2 separate regions of the Homo sapiens genome follow, and region 2 is linked to region 1. The links come from fine-mapping of genetic effects on gene expression. A gene starts in region 1. The other region holds a variant in brackets. All regions are shown on one strand. Distances are from middle to middle.

Evidence for each region.
Region 2: its variant is fine-mapped to the expression of RABEPK in whole blood (INTERVAL, PIP 0.98).

Annotation. Positions count from the first base shown.
Region 1 is chr9:125,196,146-125,205,977 of GRCh38, reverse strand. RABEPK (Rab9 effector protein with kelch motifs) reads right to left here and starts at 5,436. Exons shown (of 8, transcript NM_005833.4): 1 at 5,072-5,436; 2 at 2,912-2,970. The coding sequence starts at 2,964. LOC105376271 (a long non-coding RNA gene) reads left to right here and starts at 5,582. Exons shown (of 2, transcript NR_135145.1): 1 at 5,582-5,752; 2 at 6,323-6,445. RefSeq lists a silencer at 5,509-5,558.
Region 2 is chr9:124,736,481-124,746,312 of GRCh38, reverse strand. All of the region lies in intron 1 of NR6A1 (nuclear receptor subfamily 6 group A member 1), which reads left to right. LOC124900274 (a long non-coding RNA gene) reads left to right here. Exons shown (of 2, transcript XR_007061773.1): 1 at 1-1,796; 2 at 4,289-5,934. Among named protein-coding and RNA genes, the nearest start is that of NR6A1, 30 kb to the left of the region's middle. RefSeq lists an enhancer at 690-1,190. The variant G/T (reference allele first, on the strand shown) is at 4,938.

The DNA.
Region 1 (9,832 bases):
CAGCCACCTCCTGACTCTCCGTCATTCTCAATTCTCTTTTCCTCACTTTACATTTGCTTACCTGATTAATGTTATCTGTAGTGATAACTTCAATTATCACTCATCTATATATTCATCAGTGGTTGCCAAATTTGTTTCCCATTCAGAGCTCTATTCTGATGTCACTTAATCTACATAAAACCCCTTTGAGGGCCGGGCGCAGTGGCTCACGCCTGTAATCCCAGCACATTGGGAGGCCGAGGCAGGCAGATCATGAGGTCAAGAGATTGAGACCATCCTGGGCAACATGATGAAACCCCGTCTCTACTAAAAATACAAAAATTACCTGGGTGTGGTGGCATGCACCTATAGTCCCAGCTACTTGGGAGGCTGAGGCAGGATCGCTTGAACCCGGGAGGCGGAAGTTGCAGTGAGCCGAGATTGTGCCACTGCACTCCAACCTGCCAACAGAGTGAGACTCCGTTTCAAAGACAAACAAAAACTAAAAAAACGCTTTGAGGATAACAGCTGTTACCATCATCTGAGTTCTACAACGGAGGAACTGAAGCTAAGAAAGGTTAAGTAATTTACCAAAAGCACACAGCCATCCAGAGATGGTGGATATAACAAAAAAAAGTCCCTGCCTTGATAGCCCTTACAGACTAGTTGGGAAAAGAAACATTCAACAGTTTCACAACTATCTGTTTCACTTCAATTGTGGTAGAAAGGAGTACAGAATATATAGTATGAGGACATGCATGTCTTAGGAGGGTCTCACCCTGTAAGGAGCCAGGGAGATAGGGTGGTCAGAGAAGGCTTCCTGAAGAAGCACCATTTGGAGAGAGATCTGAAGTATGAGTAGAAATTAGCTGGGTAGGCCAGGTGTGGTGGCTCACACCTGTAATCTCAGCACTTTGGGAGGCTAGAGTGGGAGGATCGCCTGAGCCCAGGAGTTTGAGACCAGCCTGGGCAACATAGCGAGACTGGGTCTCTAAAAAAAAAAATTAGCTGGGCATGGTAGTACACACCAACAGTCCCAGTTACTTGGGAGATGGAGATGGGAAGGTTACTTGAGGCCAGGAGGTCGAGGCTATAATGAGCCACAATTGTACCACCGCATTCCAGCCTGGGTGGCCAGCCACAGAGGAAGAACTTGTCTCAAAAATAAAATAAAATAAGCTGGGAAAAGAGAGGGACAAAAAGTGGAGGGAAAGAGCACTCCAGGCAGAAAGAGCAGTCCAGGCAAAGAGACCAGCATGAACAGCTCCTGAGTGGAACAGTGCAAAGGGCACAATAAAGAAGAGAAAGAGAACAAAGGAACAAGTCATGGGATTTGAGGTTGGAAATACAGGCAGAAACATTTTGCAGGGACCATTGGGCCAGTTTAAGAAGTCTAATTTGTTTGTTTGTTTGTTTGAGACGGAGTCTCCCTCTGTTGCGCCCAGGCTGGAGTGCAGTGGCACCATCTCGGCTTGCTGCAACCTCCACCTCCCAGGTTCAAGAATTGTCCTGCCTCAGCCTCCCGAGTGGCCAGGATTACAGGCATGCACCACCACTCCCGGTTAATTTTTGTATTTTTAGTAGAGACGGGGTTTTGCCATGTTGGCCAGACTGGTCTCAAACTCCTGGCTTCAAGTGATCCACCCACCTCAGCCTCCCAAAGTGCTAGGATTATAGGCATGAGCTATTGCGCCCGGTCAGGAGTCTGATTTTTCTTTTTTTTTGAGATGGAGTCTCGCTCTGTCGCCCAGGCTGGAGTGCCTCAGCCTCCAGAGTAGCTGGGACTACAGATGCCCGCCACCACGCCCGGCTAATTTTTTGTATTTTTAGTAGAGACAGGGTTTCACCATGTTAGCCAGAGTGGTCTCGATCTCCTGACCTCGTGATCCGCCCACCTCGGCCTCCCAAAGTGCTGGGATTACAGGCATGAGCCACCGTGCCCGGCCTTTTTTTTTTTTTTTTTTTTTGAAACGGATTCTTGCTCTGTGGCCCATGCTGGAGTACAGTGGCATGATCTCAGCTCACTGCAACCTCTGCCTCCCAGATTCAAGCAATTCTCCTGTCTTAGCCTCCCTAGTAGCTGGGACTACAGTTGCACAACACCATGCCAGCTAATTTTTGTATTTTTAGTAGAGATGGGGTTTCACCATATTGGTCAGGCTGGTCTCAAACTCCTGACCTCAGGAGATCCACCCGCCTTGGCCTCCCAAAGTGCTGGGATTACAGGCATGAGCCACCGTGCCCAGCCCAGGAGTCTGATTTTTATCCCAACACCAACAGGGAGGCACAAAAGGGTTTTAAACTAGGAAATGCCATGATTGGCTGTATTCTGGGTACAGAGCAAGACAGATGCATGGAAGCCAGTCTGGAGTCTCTCCTTCAAGGTCCTGTTGAAGAACTGCCACCTCTCTACAACCTTCTGTGGGCCCTGACTCAGAGCAGATCACATTTTATCACCATCACCTGCTTAGTCTGTAGTCCCCAGTACACAGAGACTATTTACAATTCTACCTCCAGCACCCACAGAGCAGCTGCCCCCATCAGGCCAATGTTAGTTGTTGAATAAAGGGTTGTTTGAACAAACAGCCAAGAAACAGTGAAGCCAGTTTAATCCAAATCTAATTTCCTAAAAATCTTAAAAATGAGTCAGAGCTCGGGGGAAGACACAGCATTGGAGCTGAGGATGCCAGATGGTCAGTGCCTTACTCTTTCTGGTAAATGGATTTTAATAAAATTAACATCTGCTCTGTGATAATTACTGCCCCCCTATCTTTCCTCTGAAGACTTTCTCAGACAGTTTGAGTCTAATTACCAGAAACTGCAGACAGTTTCATCTCTACCCCTTTTTGTTGATGATCAAATATGTAAATAAACTACTTATAAATGAAACAAAAACTCATGCTTTTCTGTGTCTGGATCCTTCCTTACAGACCATGTTGCTTTCCTGGGCTTGTCTCCAGGTTCCAAGACTGGCAGTTGCTTCATGGTGTCCTATGCATAAGAAAGAAAGGCACTTTTTAGACACTTATGATTATCATCTTAATCAATTCAACCTCCTTTTTAAACCTTTCCTGTTGAATGTACTAATTTCTAGGCCTGATTGATTTGAATAAGAATCACCAACTTTTCATCTTTATTTTTATTATTTATTTATTTATTTATTTATTTGAGATGGAGTTTAGCTCTCGTTGCCCAGGCTGGAGTGCAATGGCAAGATCTCAGCTCATGGCAACCTCTGCCTCCCAGGTTCAAACGATTCTCCTCCCTCAGCCTCCCGAGTAGCTTGGATTACAGGCATGTGCCACTACGCCCAGCTAATTTTTCTATTTTTAGTAGAGATGGAGTTTCACCATGTTGGTCAGGCTGGTCTCGAACTCCTGACCTCAGCTGATCCACCCGCCTCAGCCTCCCAAAGTGCTGGGATTACAGGTGTGAGCCACCGTGCCTGGCCTATGTATTTATCTTTATTATTATTTTTAGATAGAGTCTCACTCTGTTGCACAGGTTGGAGTGCAGTGGTGCAATCTCCACTCACTGCAACCTTCCCCTCCCAGGTTTAAATGATTCTCCTTTCTCAGCCTCCTGAGTAGCTGAGATTACAGGTGCCCACCCACGCCCAGCTCATTTTTCTAGCTTTTCTAGTAGAGACGGGGTTTTACCACACTGGCCAGGCTGGTCACTAACTCCTGACCTCAGGTGATTTGCCCGCCTCAGCCTCCCAAAGTGCTGGGATTACAGGCATGAGCCACCGTGCCTGGCTTTATTTTTTATTTTTATTTTTTCTGAGATGGAGTCTCACTCTGTCACCCAGGCTGGAGTGCAGTGGCAGGATCTCAGCTCACTGCAACCTCTGCCTCCCGGGTTCAAGCTATTCTCCTGCCTCAGCCTCCAGAGTAAGCTGGGACTACAGGCAAGTGCCACCACACCTGGCTAATTTTTTTTGTATTTTTCGTAGGGATGGGGTTTCACTATGTTCGCCAGGCTGGTCTTGAACTTGGCTCGCCTCGGCCTCCCAAAGTGCTGGGATTACAGGCGTGAGCCACTGAGCCCGGCCATTTATTTATTTTTTAATTAAAAATAGAAACGGGGCTGGGAGCAGTGGCTCACGCCTGTAATCCCAGCACTTTGGGAGGCCGAGGCAGGCGGATCATGAGGTCAGATCGATACCATCCTGGCCAACATGGTGAAACCCTGTCTTTACTAAAAATACAAAAAAAATTAGCTGGGCGTTGTGGCCCACGCCTGTAGTCCCAGCTACTCAGGAGGCTGAGGCGTGAGAATTGCTTGAACCCAAGAGGCGGAGGTTGCAGTGAGCCGAAATTGCGCCACTTGCACTCCAGCCTGGCGACAGAGCAAGACTCCTCCTCAAAAAAAGAAAAAAAAATAGAAATGGAGGTTTCGCTTTGTTGTCCAGGCTGGTCTCGAACTCCTAGCCTCAGGCAATTCTTCCACCTCAGCCTCCTAAAAAGCTGGGATTACAGGTGTGAGCCACTGCTCTCCGCTCAAAGGACAAAATATTTAAAGAAGCTGAGAAATACTGAGCTCTGGGATAAATCTTGGCCTCAACATAGCATAGAAAGTAAGGCCTTCTGCTGTTGAGCTTTTTTCCCGTGAACTCACCTCCACAATCTCTTGCATTATTGGTTTTTTTGCTGTTCTTGTAATATGGCAGGCCTTTTCATAATTTTGCAGCCTGTTCTGCTTCCCCTATTTGGAATGTCGCTTCCCTTCTGGGAAATTTGCAAACTCCTAGTTAACCTTCAAAGCCCAGTTCAAAAGTCCCTTCCCTGGTGAAACCTTCCCTGATTTGCCCTTTTCTCTTCCACCCACATCCAAGTTACTTCCTTCTTCCACCCACTGGGCTCTGAAGGTATTAGCCATCACCATTGCAGGAATCATTTGGAATGTTTATCTATTTAAGGCTTCTAGACTAGATTCTAGATTAAATTCCACTAGACTAAGTTCCTAGAGGGCTGGGCCTGTCAGATCCATTCCGAGAACCTACCAATGGACCTGGCATGGAGTAGAAGTGGGGGAGTGGCTAGTGAATGAAGAAAGAAAATAGATTGAGAGATGAATGGATAAATCTCACCTGCGGCCTAGGCCACTGACAGCTGTCCCCAAAGTCCAGAGCTCAGTTAGGCTGGCTTCACGTGGGCGGGACCTCCCGCAGCAGCCGCCGCTACCAGCCCAGCAAATCTCATCCCCACGTGGCAGTTCTAGGGGATAGGAGACGGGGTCGGGAAAGAACAGGCTGATTCGGTCAAAGTGGCCGGGACGGAGCCAGGGAAGGCCCTTCCCCGTTCTTTGCACCCGGCTTGGGCCCACTCCCCTAAAAGATTCAGACTCCCTGCCCGAGACCGTGATAGACCCGGTATCCGGGGACCCTCGCCCCTACCCTCCAGCCCCGGACTGCAATACCTGCGGCGACTTAGGCCAGTCGCGAGCCGTGACTCCACCCCGGAGGGGCGGGGCTTAGGTCCGGGCCCTCCTCCCAGGACCCGGAAGAGCGTCCGGGCCAACCGCTCCCTCTTCCCTGCTCCGCCCCGAGGGCCCGGCGCTGACTTCCTGGGCTGGCGGTGGAGGGGTCCCCCAGACCGGGAGTGGACGCCAGGCTCTGCATTTCTCGGGAACCAAGTGGGGTGGGCCTTCCCTGGGTCCCTCCCTCCCGGACGGGATAAATAAGCCGGGGCTACTTGGAAACGATTTGCGCAATGCCGGGTTCGGGCGTCCGTTTGGGGAACTCAGATGCCTGCGGCAGCTGATCTACTCTGTAAGGGGCTAACAGGGCTGGGCGCCACCACACTCCAGCTTGGGCAACAGCGCAAAAACTCCCTCTCAAAAAAATAAATAAATAAAAGGGGGGGAGGGTATAACAGTTACATTTCCAGTTACAACGATTGTTTTTTTTTTTTTTTTTTGAGACGGAGTCTCGCTCTGTCGCCCAGGCGGGACTGCGGACTGCAGTGGCGCAATCTCGGCTCACTGCAAGCTCCGCTTCCCGGGTTCACGCCATTCTCCTGCCTCAGCCTCCCGAGTAGCTGGGACTACAGGCGCCCGCCACCGCGCCCGGCTAATTTTTTTTGTATTTTTAGTAGAGACGGGGTTTCACCTTGTTAGCCAGGATGGTCTCGATCTCCTGACCTCATGATCCACCCGCCTCGGCCTCCCAAAGTGCTGGGATTACAGGCGTGAGCCACCGCGCCCGGCCACAACGATTGTTAACAGTTTCTAAAGGGGAGAGTTGAGCATGCAATCCTCCTGCGCAGTCTTCGGGCCAGCTCAAGATTTGGTGCTTTAAACAGCTGATTCATTCCATAATTGCCATTTGTAATTATGGCAGGTGCTATGCTGAGCCAGACACCACCACGCTTTGCCTCCAGGAGCAAGTCTTAACTAGAGAGAGATCAAAGAAAAAGACAACTAGGGACGACTGCCAAGAGTGCAATAAATATAAAGTTCAGCCAGGAGAGTATCTGTTCTGAAGTTACTTTCCTCCAGGCCTCAGGGTTGTCTGTTTGTAACCATGGAGCTAATAAGATTTCTATCATAGGCTGGGCGCGGTGGCTCACGCCTATAAGTCCAGCACTTTGGGAGGCCGAGGCGGGCGGATCACGAGGTCAGGAGTTCGAGACCAGCCTGGCCTACATGGTGAACGCCCCCGCCCCCCCCCCCAACTAAAAACACAAAAATTAGCTAGGCGTGGTGGTGGGCGCCTGTAATCCCTGCTACTCAGGAGGCTGAGGCAGGAAAATTGCTTGAATCTGGGAGGCGGAGGTTGCAGTGAGCCGAGATAGTGCCACTGCACTCCAGCCTGGGTGACAGAGCCAGACTCCGTCTCAAGAAAAAAAAAAAAAAAAGAGAGATGTATGTAGTAGTTGTGGTGGGGAATACATGACATAATGTAAATAAAAGTGCTCAGCACCCAGCAGCTGGCACAGAGTTCTCTGTCAAGGGTAAAGCTATTCCTGACTATAAATGAACAATGTCTCTAGACATATTCAGAATCTACATTATCTTTGTTTTAGTTCATAACCATAGGTTCTCTGTGTCTTTCCTGAAAATAGAGAGGTGGCTTGCTCTCTTATGTCTGTTTCAAAGAACTCCAGTCTCTGAAACTGTCGCTGTGTCCTAGAAAATAGAGAAAACAGCTCAGGTTAGAAACAGGAGCTCCTGGAGTATAGAGCTATGGTAGCTTAGTGGGAAGAGATCAAACATACTTGGGTTAAAATCCAAGCTCCAGGCTGGGTGTGGTGGCTCATGCCTGTAATCCCAGCACTATGGGAGGCCAAGGAGGGCAGATCACGAGGTCAGGAGTTCAAGACCAGCCTGGCCAACATAGTGAAACCCCATCTCTACTAAAAATACAAAAATTAGCCAGGCACGGTGATGCGCACCTATAGTCCCAGCTACTCGGGAGGCTGAGGCAGGAGAATTGCTTGAATCGGGAGGCAGAGGTTGTGGTGAGCCAAGATCATGCCACTGCACTCCAGCTTGGGCAACAGAGCAAGACTCTGTCTAAAAAAAAATCAGCCAGGCGTTTGCCTGTAATCCCAGCTACTCAGGAGGCTGAGGCAGAAGAATCACTTGAACCCAGGAGGTGGAGGTTGCAGTGAGCCGAGATCGTGCCACTGCACTCCAGCCGGGGCAACAGAGCAAGACTCTGTCAAAAAAAAAAAATCCAGGGTCCAGCACTAACCATCTAACTCTGACATTTGGCAAGTTACCCACTCTGAACCCTAGTTCCTCATCTATAGAATGATGATAGTATTACCTGCTGTGCAGACAGAACTGTTCAGAGGATGTGCTAATACAGGTGAAAGGCCAGGTTGGTGAAAGGAATATTTTAGCTACTTGAAACCATAACCAAAATTTATTGACAAAATGGAATTCAAGGTCTGCGGCTCTTTCAAACATATGGAGTCTTTGTGAGTTCCCACTTTAGTGGAAAAATCCCCATTGACTGTCTGCCAAAGAGAAGTTTAGGGATATTCAGTCATTCTGCTCTCCTTCAGGAAAGAAAACCAAGTCCAGGTTAGCTCTGCCATATGTCCATGTGCATCTCCACGTACATTTCTGCTCACAGCTGCAGAATGCTCTGATGTCCCCGGTGTTTTCTGGCTAGCTCTGTTTCAAGGTGCCATGCTGGAGTGGCACATCAACAAGAAAAATTGGAAGAGGTTTGTGGGCAAAATAGCAGCCAGTTTTCACTGCGGGACCTATTTATTTATTTATTTACAGACGGAGTCTCGATTTGTCGCCCAGGATGGAATGCAGTGGCGCCCTCAGTTCACTGCAACCTCCGCCTCCTGGGTTCAAGCAATTGTCCTGCCTCAGCCTCCCAAGTAGCTGGGATTATAGGCGTGGCCACCACGTATGGTTAATTTTTGTACTTTTAGTAGAGACGGCATTTCACCATGTTGGCCAGGCTGGTCTTGAACTCCTAGCCTCAGATGATCCACCTGCCTTGGCCACCCAAAGTGCTGGCATTACAGGCATGAGCCACCGTGCCTGCTGAACCTATGCTTTTAGACTAGAAATCACATTTGAGAATGTGGAATGCCTGAGATCTATTTTCTTTTTTTTTTTTTGAGACAGTCTTGCTCTGTCGCCCAAGCTGGGGGAGTGCAGTGGCATGATCTCGGCTCACTGCAACATCCGCCTCCCGGGTTCAAGCAATTCTCTGCATCATCCTCCCAAGTAGCTGGGATTACAGGTACCCGCCACCACACCCAGCTAATTTTTTTTTTGCATTTTTAGTAGAGACGGGGTTTCACCATCTTGGCCAGGCTGGTCTTGAACTCCTGACCTCGTGATCCACCCACCTCGGTCTCCCAAAGTTCTGGGATTACAGGCGTGAGCCACTGCGCCAGGCTGCCTGAGATGTATTTTCTATTTCTATTTTTATTTATTTACTTATTTTGAGATGGAATCTTGTTCTGTCGCCCAGCCTGGAGTGCAGTGTCATGATCTCAGGTTACTGCAACCTCCGCCTCCCAGGTTCAAGCAATTCTCTTGCCTCAGCCTCCTGAGTACCTGGGACTACAGGTGCGCACCACCATGCCTGGCTAATTTTTGTATTTTTCGTAGAGACAGGGTTTCACCATGTTGGCCAGGTTGGTCTTGAATTCCTGACCTCAAATGATTCACCCACCTCTGCCTCCAAAAGTGCTGGGATTACAGGTGTGAGCCACTGTGCCTGGCAAGAGATGTATTTTTAAAAATGGAAATCAAGGCCCAGAGAAGTTAAAATAACTACCCCACATAAAATGGCAGAACCAGGAACCCAGGAACCCAGATCTCTTATTTCTTGCAAGGAAGACTAAGAATGCATTCCAGTCATCAAGCTCTGTTACCCCATCTCCATACCAAACCACTGGAAGTGTCTAACACCTCTCCTAAAAGCTTGCCCAACACTCTGACGCACGCTTTCTTCTTTTCTCTCTGCTGTGGATGTGAAGAATGATGTTCACTCAATGAGGTGGGTCTGCAGGAGGGAGCTTCCTCCTGTCAGATAGTGTGGTCATGTGAGGACTGCCACCTATTTTCACTGGAACAGCACACCACTGACCTCTTTACTGATGCATCAGCAAGGGAAGTAATGAATGCCGGTGAGACCTTCCTTTTAAGCACTTTACAGTTTATGAAGAACATTCACATCCATCTCCCTATTTGTCTTCCTTCCCACTTCTGAGAAGGTATCTTGAATAGGATTTATTCCCAATTACTGAGGTTCAGAGATTAAGAGTGAATTGTGGCTGGGCGCAGTGGCTCATGCCTGTAATCCCAACACTTTGGGAGGCCGAGGTGGGCCAATCAACTGAGGTCAGGAGTTTGAGACCAGACTGACCAA
Region 2 (9,832 bases), 460 kb after region 1:
CTGGCACAGAATTATTCATAGGTATGATTAACTAGCTTTGCTTCAGATTTGAAAGATCCTGGGATGAAAGGTTAAAGATGTATTTCTTTGTTGCCACACAATGGATTTCTGAAGCTGGGACGTGGGAGATAGTACTGAGCTTTAAGCATTCATGACTAGTATGTAAGAAAGATTAGTGCCCAGAATTGTGTTTCTAATAAGATAGTAATTTAAAAGTCATTTAGAGAATGGTAGTTTTTTTTTTCCCCTTCAGTTGAAGCTGTTGATTGTAGACAGTTTAGCCAAATCATTTTGTTTTTAGGATTTTTTTTTTTTTTTTTTTTTTGAGACAGAGTCTGGCTCTGTCGCCCAGGCTGGAGTGCAGTGGCGCGATCTTGGCTTACTGCAACCTCTGCCTCCCGGATTCAAGCAGTTCTCCCTGCCTCAGCCTCTTGAGTAGGCAGGGAGAATTGCACAGGCATGCACCACCATGCCTGGCAATTTTTTGTATTTTTTAGTAGAGATGGAGTTTCCTGTGTTGGCCAGGCTGATCTTGAACTCCTGACTTCAGGTGATCTGCCCGCCTTAGCCTCCCAAAGCTAGGATTACAGATGTGAGCCACCGCACCCGGCCTGTTCTTAGGATTTTTTTTTTTTTTTTTTAAGACAGAGTTTCACTCTTGTTGCCCAGGCTGGAGTGCCATGGCACGATCTTGGCTCACTGCAACCTCTGCCTCCCGGGTTCAAGCGATTCTCCTGCCTCAGCCTCCCAAGTAGCTGGGACTACAGGCATGCGCCACCATGCCCGGCTAATTTTGTATTTTTAGTAAAGACGGGGTTTGTCCATGTTGGGCAGGCTGGTCTCAAACTCCCGACCTCAGGTGATCTGCCCGCCTCAGCCTCCCAAAGTGCTGGGATTACAGGCGTGAGCCGCTGTGCCCTGCCAGGATTTTTTTAATGTATGTTTCTGTTTATAAAAACAATATATTTTAATCAGAAAAGTAGAATGGAGGAAGAAAAATTAGTTATACTAAGAGATAATCACTAAGAGAAAATGGACCAAAGTGTTTTTTTTTTCATGTATATATGTATTGGAATATACCTGAGCTCATTCCAAGAATACAGTTTTACATTGTATTTTTAATATGGTATTTGCCCTTTGTAAACTCTTGGAAAACATTTATAGTGTTCGCAAAATATTCCATTGAATAAGTGTACATAATTTAATCATTTTCCTGTGTTTGAATTTTTAGATGGCCTCGAGTTTTGTACTATTTTCTGTATTTCTGATTCTTAGGATAGATTCCTAAGATTGATCCAGAGGGATAAACATTTTCTAGGCCCTCATGCATCCATCTTCCCTTTTTATATGGAGATTTTAAAGAAAATAAGGAAAAAGGTACATTCTGCCACATGTGGGACATCTCTTTGGTGGTATCTGCACCTTACTAATGGATTTCCTGAGCAGAGCTGGCTACTTCTCTTCCATCAAACCATCTGTTGAGGATGGTGTGGGGCACTTTCTGAAATGACTTTGAAAGCTCTCTGACCATGTTCAAACAAACTCCTTGATCAGTAAGACTTTAGTCAGTCTTCACAATGACAATGAACAAATAAAAACATCTTCACTTCCCTCAGTAGCTGCTTCTGACAGGCATCTTGGATTTTTCAGGAGGTGACTTGTAAATGGGCTCAAGTAAGGTGTGGTATTCTTCTTGGACGTTGAGGTCCTGCTGTTATGGGAGCATCAGGGTTGCTCTTTGAGATTATGCTAAGTTCCCATCCATCCGGCTGTTGCAGAACATGCACTGCGCAAAGGTAGGGTTTTATTAGTCAAGATGCTTTCAATAGAAGTTCTCTTGTTTTGACTTTTGTGGCTCTTTCCATGTAATGGAGTACAATGATCTGTTTAGATCTATAAAATGGAGACAATAGTAGCTATTTTTCAGTAAGAATTCATGTAAAGTGTCAAGCTGATGCCTGGTTTATAGTAATAGATTCAATAAATGGCAACTGACAGATTATTGTATACATTTTCTTATATTTTTCTGTATTAAGTATTTTGCATTTTGAAATTTCTTTTCTTTTCTTTTTTTGTTTGAGACAAGGTCTTGCTCTGTCACTCAGGCTGGAGTGCAGTGATCCTGGCTCACTGCGGCCTCAACCTCCCAGGCTCAAGTGGTCCTCCCACCTCAGCCTCCCAAGTAGCTGGGACTATAGGTGCATGCCACCACGCCCAGCTAATTGAAAAAGACAGACATATTTTTGTTGTTGTTGTAGAGGTCTCACTATATTGCCCAGGCTGGTTTTCAATTCCTGAGCTCAAGGGATCCTCCTGCCTTGGCCTCCCAGAGTTCTGAGATTACAGGCGTGAGCCACTGTGCCTGGCCTTGAAATTTCTTAACCTCCAAGACAAATGAAGGATTATCAACAGTCCCTTTTGTTCCTCCAGAGAACCAAAAATTGCAAATGAAAAATGCCAGAGAATCATCAGTACGTGCAGTTTTCTGAGAAATGCCTGTGCTGTAATTCCATAGAAACACTAATGACCTCTGACTCATCAGACTGAATTGCCTTCCTAAACCGTTTTCACCTTTTGATTCTATAGCTACAGCCTTGAAAGCTGTGTACTGTCTTTATTTTTTAAAAATGTTTTAAAATTGAAATGTCATAATCTTGGGCTGGCTTTTCTGCCTTCAGTCTGGTTTCAAGGCTGTAATTGCAAAGCTAGAAGCCGGAAAAACTATATGAAAGGTGATGTAGGTTGATCAGATGGAAGTTATTAATGTTTCCATAGAAATATAGACACTCGTGTACTGCATTTAAGCTGAGCAAATACATGGGCATAGTATCCCCCTAAGATTTCATGTTTAAGAAAATTACATTAGGAAAAGGGTATTGTTTTTGTTGCACTTTTAAAAATGTGACCATGACATTTGTAGGTGGAGAAAAGAGCTACTACTTAAAGCTCTACCAGATAGCTTTTGCTATATGGACTTGTGGTGCTATGTTTCTGCATTCAAAAGCATTTTCTGTTATTCTTTAAGTATGGTTTGTCAAGCTGCCTGTGAGAAACAAAAGCTAATGGCCCAAGTGGCATCCCACTCACTGGATAGAAAAGCAAGAGGCAGGTGTGAATTTAATCAGCCAATCCAAGAAAAGTGTTCCTGTATCTGCCTAGGTCTGGAGCTGCTTGCAGGCTGCAGATATGGCTGTAAGGCAGGCTGTGTAGTTCATGTTTGTTACTTCCCACCACCAAAATAAAGCTGCATTCCTTCTCAGCCTCATGCCAAAGCCATTCATTGTACCAAAAGGAGACTAGAAGATAGAGTGGAGGAAGGGCCCCCCCAAAGGGAAGTTTCTAGAATCTAAAGGAGGTCTATGGATGGCTAGCCATGTGTGTTTTGGCTGCCTCAACAAAGCTCTTTTATTTCTATTTTTAATTTATTTTTTATTTTTGAGACAGAGTCTCGCTCTGTCATCCAGGCTGGAGTGCAGTGGCACCATCTCGGCTCACTGCAACCTCTACTTCCCGGGTTCACGTGATTCTCCTGCCTCAGCCTCTTGAGTAGCTGGGACTACAGGCGCGTACCACCATGCCTGGCTAATTTTTTGTGTTTTTACTAGAGACGGGGTTTCACCGTGTTAGCCAGGATGGTCTCCATCTCCTGACCTCGTGATCCGCCCACCTCAGCCTCCCAAAATGCTGGGATTACAGGCGTGAGCCACAGTGCCCAGCTGCTCTTTTATTTTTTATTTTTATTTTTATTTTTTGAGACGAAGTTTCGCTCTTCCTGCCCAGGCTGGAGTGCAGTGGTGCGATCTCGGCTCACCACAACCTCTGCCTCCTGGTTCAAGCAATTCTCCTGCCTCAGCCTCTCGAGTAGCTGGGATTACAGGCATGCGCCACCACACCCGGCTAATTTTGTATTTTTAGTAGAGACGGGGTTTCTCCATCTTGCCAGGCTGGTCTCAAACTCCTAACCTCAGGTGATCTGCCCACCTCGGCCTTCCAAAGTGCTGGGATTAGAGGCGTGAGCCACCGTGCCCGGCCTCTTTTATTTTTTTAAAACTCCTTGTGCTTTTGGTTTTCTGGTTGAAATTTTAGAGCCCCTGTATTGAAGTAATGAGAGTTGGGCTGTTACTGACAAACTTCCTAGGTGTACATATATTTTCAGTCACTGTTGCCTATAGGATAAAAACCAAAAACTCTTCATGTATGACAGTTGAAGGTCTTTATGATAAGGCCCTGCTGAGATTCCAATCAAGTCAAATTACCAAGTAACATTCTGTTTTTTCTCTCTATTTAGTGCTTTCACATGCTGCTTCCTCTAAATATGTTTCTCAAATAGCCCTGTTTGCCTGGTGAATGCCTGTCTCCTCTCTGTGCTCCTGGCTCCATGATTGCTGCTTCTCTTCTCCCTGATATCGATCATGGCTACCGAGCACTTTCACTGACCTCAGTGCATCATATCATTGAGTACTCATAATCGACAGATGAGGAAATTGGCCCAGAGGGTGAAGTCATTTCCTAAGCTAACACAATTAGTAAGTAATGGTGCCAGGACTCAAACCTATTCTGAAATAAAAATTTATGCTCTTTCTACTCTGCACTGCTTCCCAGTGTATCATGTCCATCTGTCCCATAGTGTTAATTTTTTCGAAAATATTGTTTCAACTTTTTTCTTCAGTAGGCTTTAATCTTTTTAAAAATTGTGGTAAAATATACGTAGCATAAAATTTACCATTTTAACCATTTGAAGTGTACAACTTAGTGGCATTAAGTGCATTTGCATTGTCAGGCTCTACAGTTATTTTTGTCTGCTCTGTACTCCTAGAGACTATTAATTCTCTGTAGTCAGTCTTATTCATATCTCTACCTTCGAGGCCTCTGGCCTGTTACAGTATGGGTAGATACTTAATATTTGAAGGAGTAAGTGACTGCATTTGCAGGCTGAT[G/T]GACCTATTCTTATAACAGCTGACACAGCTATAAATTGGCTAGTAAATAATACTGGCCTAAACATTTCCATATTTTATTTTTTTAAGCATGTATATCCAAAACATGTGGTGTGACAAATTTACAAAGAGGGACGACAACTATGTTTTCACTGTTTCATAGCCACCAGCCTCATACGGCCATTTAAATTAAGAGTAAAGTTAAAAATTCAGTTCCTCATTCACGCCAGTCACATTCCAAGTACTCATTGGCCACATGTAGCTAGTGGCAACTGTATTGGACAGTGTAGATATATGACATTTTCGTCATTGTAGAAATTTCTATTGGACAGTGCTTATCTAGGCTTTAAAAGTTGAGAATAGTGAAATTGTTCTCTTGAAATTTGTTATTTTGGCAAGAAATTCATTGTAGTGGCATTGTAGCTTACCATTATTGTCTTCTGGTGAAAGAAACAGTTCTTCAAACATTTATTGAGCTGCCTTTCCTGGGACATGTCTCAGGCCCAGGGCTGGGGTTATCTTTGGGGTTGAGACTAGATTTGACTGATCTAGTCAAGAGTTTTATTGGGTGCCAAATCATGATCACGGGAGACAAGGTAGATGGGAAACTGATACAGCTGACTAGAGGGGATTGGTCTAGGAAAGACCAGTGAATGACTGTTGTATATCAATAGAAAACCTGGGTAAAGATTTTTAACTTTTTCTTGGGGATCCTGGAAAAACAGACTTCTCTGAAACCTTGGGTTCTCTGAATTCAGGTTCTAGTGGTCCTGATCATGATATGGTTGTGGTGTGTAAAGCACAGGAACCTGTGGGAGCATAGAAGAGTCACACAGAATTCGTCAGAGCAATTTCAAGACCTATTTTGACCTTTGGCTTTCTTAGTCCTACAAGCCCTGTGTCACTGTATCTCATGTTTAAAACTATATAAGACTTGAATTGCAATTGACTAAGTGAAATAACGTTATCTCATATTTAATTAAAACATTTGAATTTCAAATTTGCAGATGTGTTTGTGTTTTGGATTTTGAAACCAGTCTTTTTCTTCCTCATAGGTCCCTGAAAAACTATAGTTTCAGCCATGTTGTTTGTAGTGCCTAACTCAGACTTGAGTGTTTGCAGGAAAGGGAGGGGGAAATTAGAGGAGACCTGACTTGAGTCCTTATGTCAGTGGTGAGTAAAGGTGGGCTCAGGTGGAGAAAATAGCATGTGTAAAGGAATTGAGGCCAAAGAGCGTGTTGAATTCTGGGAGCCACGATGTACTTCAGTGTGGATGGAGTATACACTGTTGGGTAGGATGCTATGAAAAGCAAGAGATAAAGTGGTTGGCAAATCATGAGAGACACATACAACTTCTGTTTTGTAGAAAGAGATAGTTGATTAGAATTGTAGAATTTTACCTTTTAAGGGCCTTAATCTTACATATGGGTTATTGAGGCTTCAAAAGAGACTGAGTAACTAGCAGAACGTTAACCAGAGTCCATGTCTCTGTTGCACTATATTGTCTTCCTACAGTCAAACTAAAACATTGCTTGAGTAACTCTAACACATTATAGAGTATAATTAGCTAGTGTTTCACACCTTAATTTGCTGACTGGTGATACTCAGAAGTTTATTTAAGTTTCTGTCATGGTAAATTTACAATTTTATAGTCAAAATATCAAAAAGGAAAAAGATCAGTGACATTTTAATCTCTCATGATAGCCAGTCACAATTTGAGGAATCAGTGATCATTTTCTTTTTGTCAAATGCCTTTTTGTCAAATGTGTGGTGGTGCACACCTGTAGTCTCAGCTACTTGGGAGGCTGAAGTAGGAGGGTTGCTTGGGTCCTAGAGGTCAAGGCTGCAGTGAGCCATGATCGTGCCACTGCACCCCAGCCTGGGCTACAGAAGCAAGACCTTGTTTAAAAAGCAAACAAAACGCCTATTTGGAGAAGAGCTTGTCAACTGGAACTTTCTCTTGTATGAAATAAGATTCCTAGACTTAGAGCCATTTGCTGATTACTTGCCATAAAGTAGATGATTTACATATATTCACCAAATCTCATGACAATTGAATGTGATGGTTATTTTTATCCTCATTCCAAGACATGGGTTTGGAGTAGTTAATTTGATAATAGCAAATCTGGGATTTGAATCTAATTCTAATTCATACCCATACCCTCGCCGCCCCCATTTTTTTTTTTTTTTTGAGATGGAGTCTCGCTCTGTTGTCCAGGCTGGAGTGCAGTGATGTGATCTGGGCTCACTGCAACCTCTGCCTCCCAGGTTCAAGCATTTCTCCTGCCTCAGCCTCCTGAGTAGCTGGGCTTATAGGCACCTGCCACCACCAAAATTAGCCCAGCTAATTTTTGTATTTTTGTATTTTTTTTTTTTTTAGATGGAGTCTTGCTTCGTTGTCTGGGCTGGAGTGCAGTGGGGTGATCCTGGCTCACTGCAACCTCCGCCTCCCGGGTTCAAATGATTCTCTTGCCTCAGCCCCCCGAGTAGCTAGGACTACAGCATGCGCCACCACGCCTGGCTAATTTTTGTATTTTTAGTAGAGATGGGGTTTCACTATGTTGGCCAAGCTGGTCTCAAACTCCTGACCTCGTGATCCTCCCGCCTTGGCCTCCCAAAGTGCTGGGATTACAGGTGTGAGCCGCTGCACCCGGCCCAATTTTTGTATTTTTAGTAGGGATGGGGTTTTACCATGTTGGTCAGGGTGGTCTTGAACTCCTGACCTCAGGTGATCCACCTGCCTCAGCCTCCCCAAATGCTGGGATTACAGGCGTGAGCGATTGTGCCCGGCCCCCGTGTCCTTTTTTCAGTACGCATTTATCTTCCTAGTTAAACTGAGGCAAGTGAATATAACCTTTGCAGTAACATTTCAGATTGCTTGTGTGCACACTGACTTGGTGATATCATCTTAGGAACCAATCTGTTTCTTGTCTCTCTTTTCCTTTTGAAAGCAATTTAAGTCACCATACAAAGACCCTGGATTTCTCAGAAAATTTCCTGGATTTCTCAGAAAATTTCCTGATCTGTTTAATATGTTGTATTCTGTGCGACAGGTGGGTTTGGGGGTATGTTTGTTTATTTATGAAGCTTAAGAGCCTGCTTTTCTTTTTGTTTTGTTTTGTTTTGAGACAGAGTCTTGCTCTGTTGCCCAGGCTGGAGTACAGTGGCGCGATCTCCGCTCACTGCAACCTCCGCCTCCCAGGTTAAAGCTATTCTCTTGCCTCAGCCTCCTGAGTAGCTGTGACTACAGGTGTGCACCACCACGCCAGACTAATTTTTGTATTTTTAGTAGAAACGGGGTTTTACTATGTTGGCCAGGCTGGTCTTGAACTCCTGGCCTCGTGATCTGCCCACCTCAGTCTCCCAAAGTGCTGGAATTACAGGCGTGAGCTACCACGCCCCGCCTAATTTTTGTATTTCTAGTAGAGATGGCGTTTTACCATGTTGGTCAGGCTGGTCTAGGACCCCTGACCTCAGGTGATCCACCGCGCCCAGCCTCTTTTTTTTGGTTTTTGAGAAGGAGTCTTGCTCTTTCCCCCAGGCTGGAGTGCAGTGGCATAATCTCGGCTCACTACAACCTCTGCCTCTGTGTTCAAGCGATTCTTCTGCCTCAGCCTCCCAAGTAGCTGGTATTACAGGTGTGCACTGCCATGCCAGGCTAATTTTTGTCTTTTTAGTAGAGATGGGGTTTCACCATTTTTGCCATGCTGGTCTCGAACTCCTGACCTCAAGTGATCCACCCACCTTGGCCTCCCAAAGTGTTGGGATTACAGGTGTGAGCCACTGCGCCCGGCCAAGATTCTGCTTTCTGCTGAACAACTCTGATTGCCTTTGAGTTGAATCTAATTGAATAAATCCAATTTAACGTACATTTGGGGTTACATCTAGCAGTGGTTTGGGTTCTTCTAGCTAAGAATCATTTTGCCAGCTAGATGTGGTTGCTGAGAATCTGGGCAAAACTCTGCTTGACAATAGTAGCTAGCTGTGGCCATTTCATTGCCTTGTGGTCAGTAGGTATGTGGTTTGTAGGTAAGATTAACATTGTTCTCCATATATCTTCAAGGCTCCTGCATTAGTGATGATCTGTAAATCCAGAGACAACATAATAGCAGTGGTCTCAGGACTAGGTCGAGGGAATGTAGATGTAATTACTGAATTTTATAATCAGGATCTTTGTGACCCTTGGAGGATTTTTTTTAGTGTGAATATAGAGTCTTTCCTCAGGAAGTAGCAAACATCTGGAATCACCACATCAAGCACTTTACAGGCTGAAAATGTAAAAGTTCAAGAACCACAGCAAGTAACCAAAGTGACATTAGTGATATTAGGGTTCCATCCCAGGTCTTTGAGGATGATGCCATGAATGGTTTAATAGTAACTCTGCTATAATCTACACTTTGCTTCCATAGACACAGCACTGAATTGGATGGACCCTAGAGATTAGTTAGTAGCAGCTTACATATATAGAGGTCTTACTTTGTCAAGTACTGTGCAAAGCCTTTATATTCACTGTGTCATTTAATTCTTTATTTTTTGAGACCTGGTCTCACTCTGTTGCCCAGGCTGGAGTGTAGTGGCACGATCATGGCTCACTGCATCCTCGACCTCCTAAGCTCAGGTGATCTCTACCTCAGCCTCCCAAGTAGGTGGGATTACAGGCATACACCACCACACCTGGCTAACTTTTGTATTTTTTTGGTAGAGATAGGGTTTCACCATGTTGCCCAGGCTGGTCTCCGACTCCTGGGCTCAAGCGATCCTCCTGCTTCGGCTTCCCAAAGTGCTGGGATTACAGGCATGCACCACTGTACCTGGTCTCATTTAATTCTTTTGACATCCCCATAAGGTAGGTGCTGTTGTTGATCCCAATTTACAACAAAGTTAGGGTCAATTCTCCT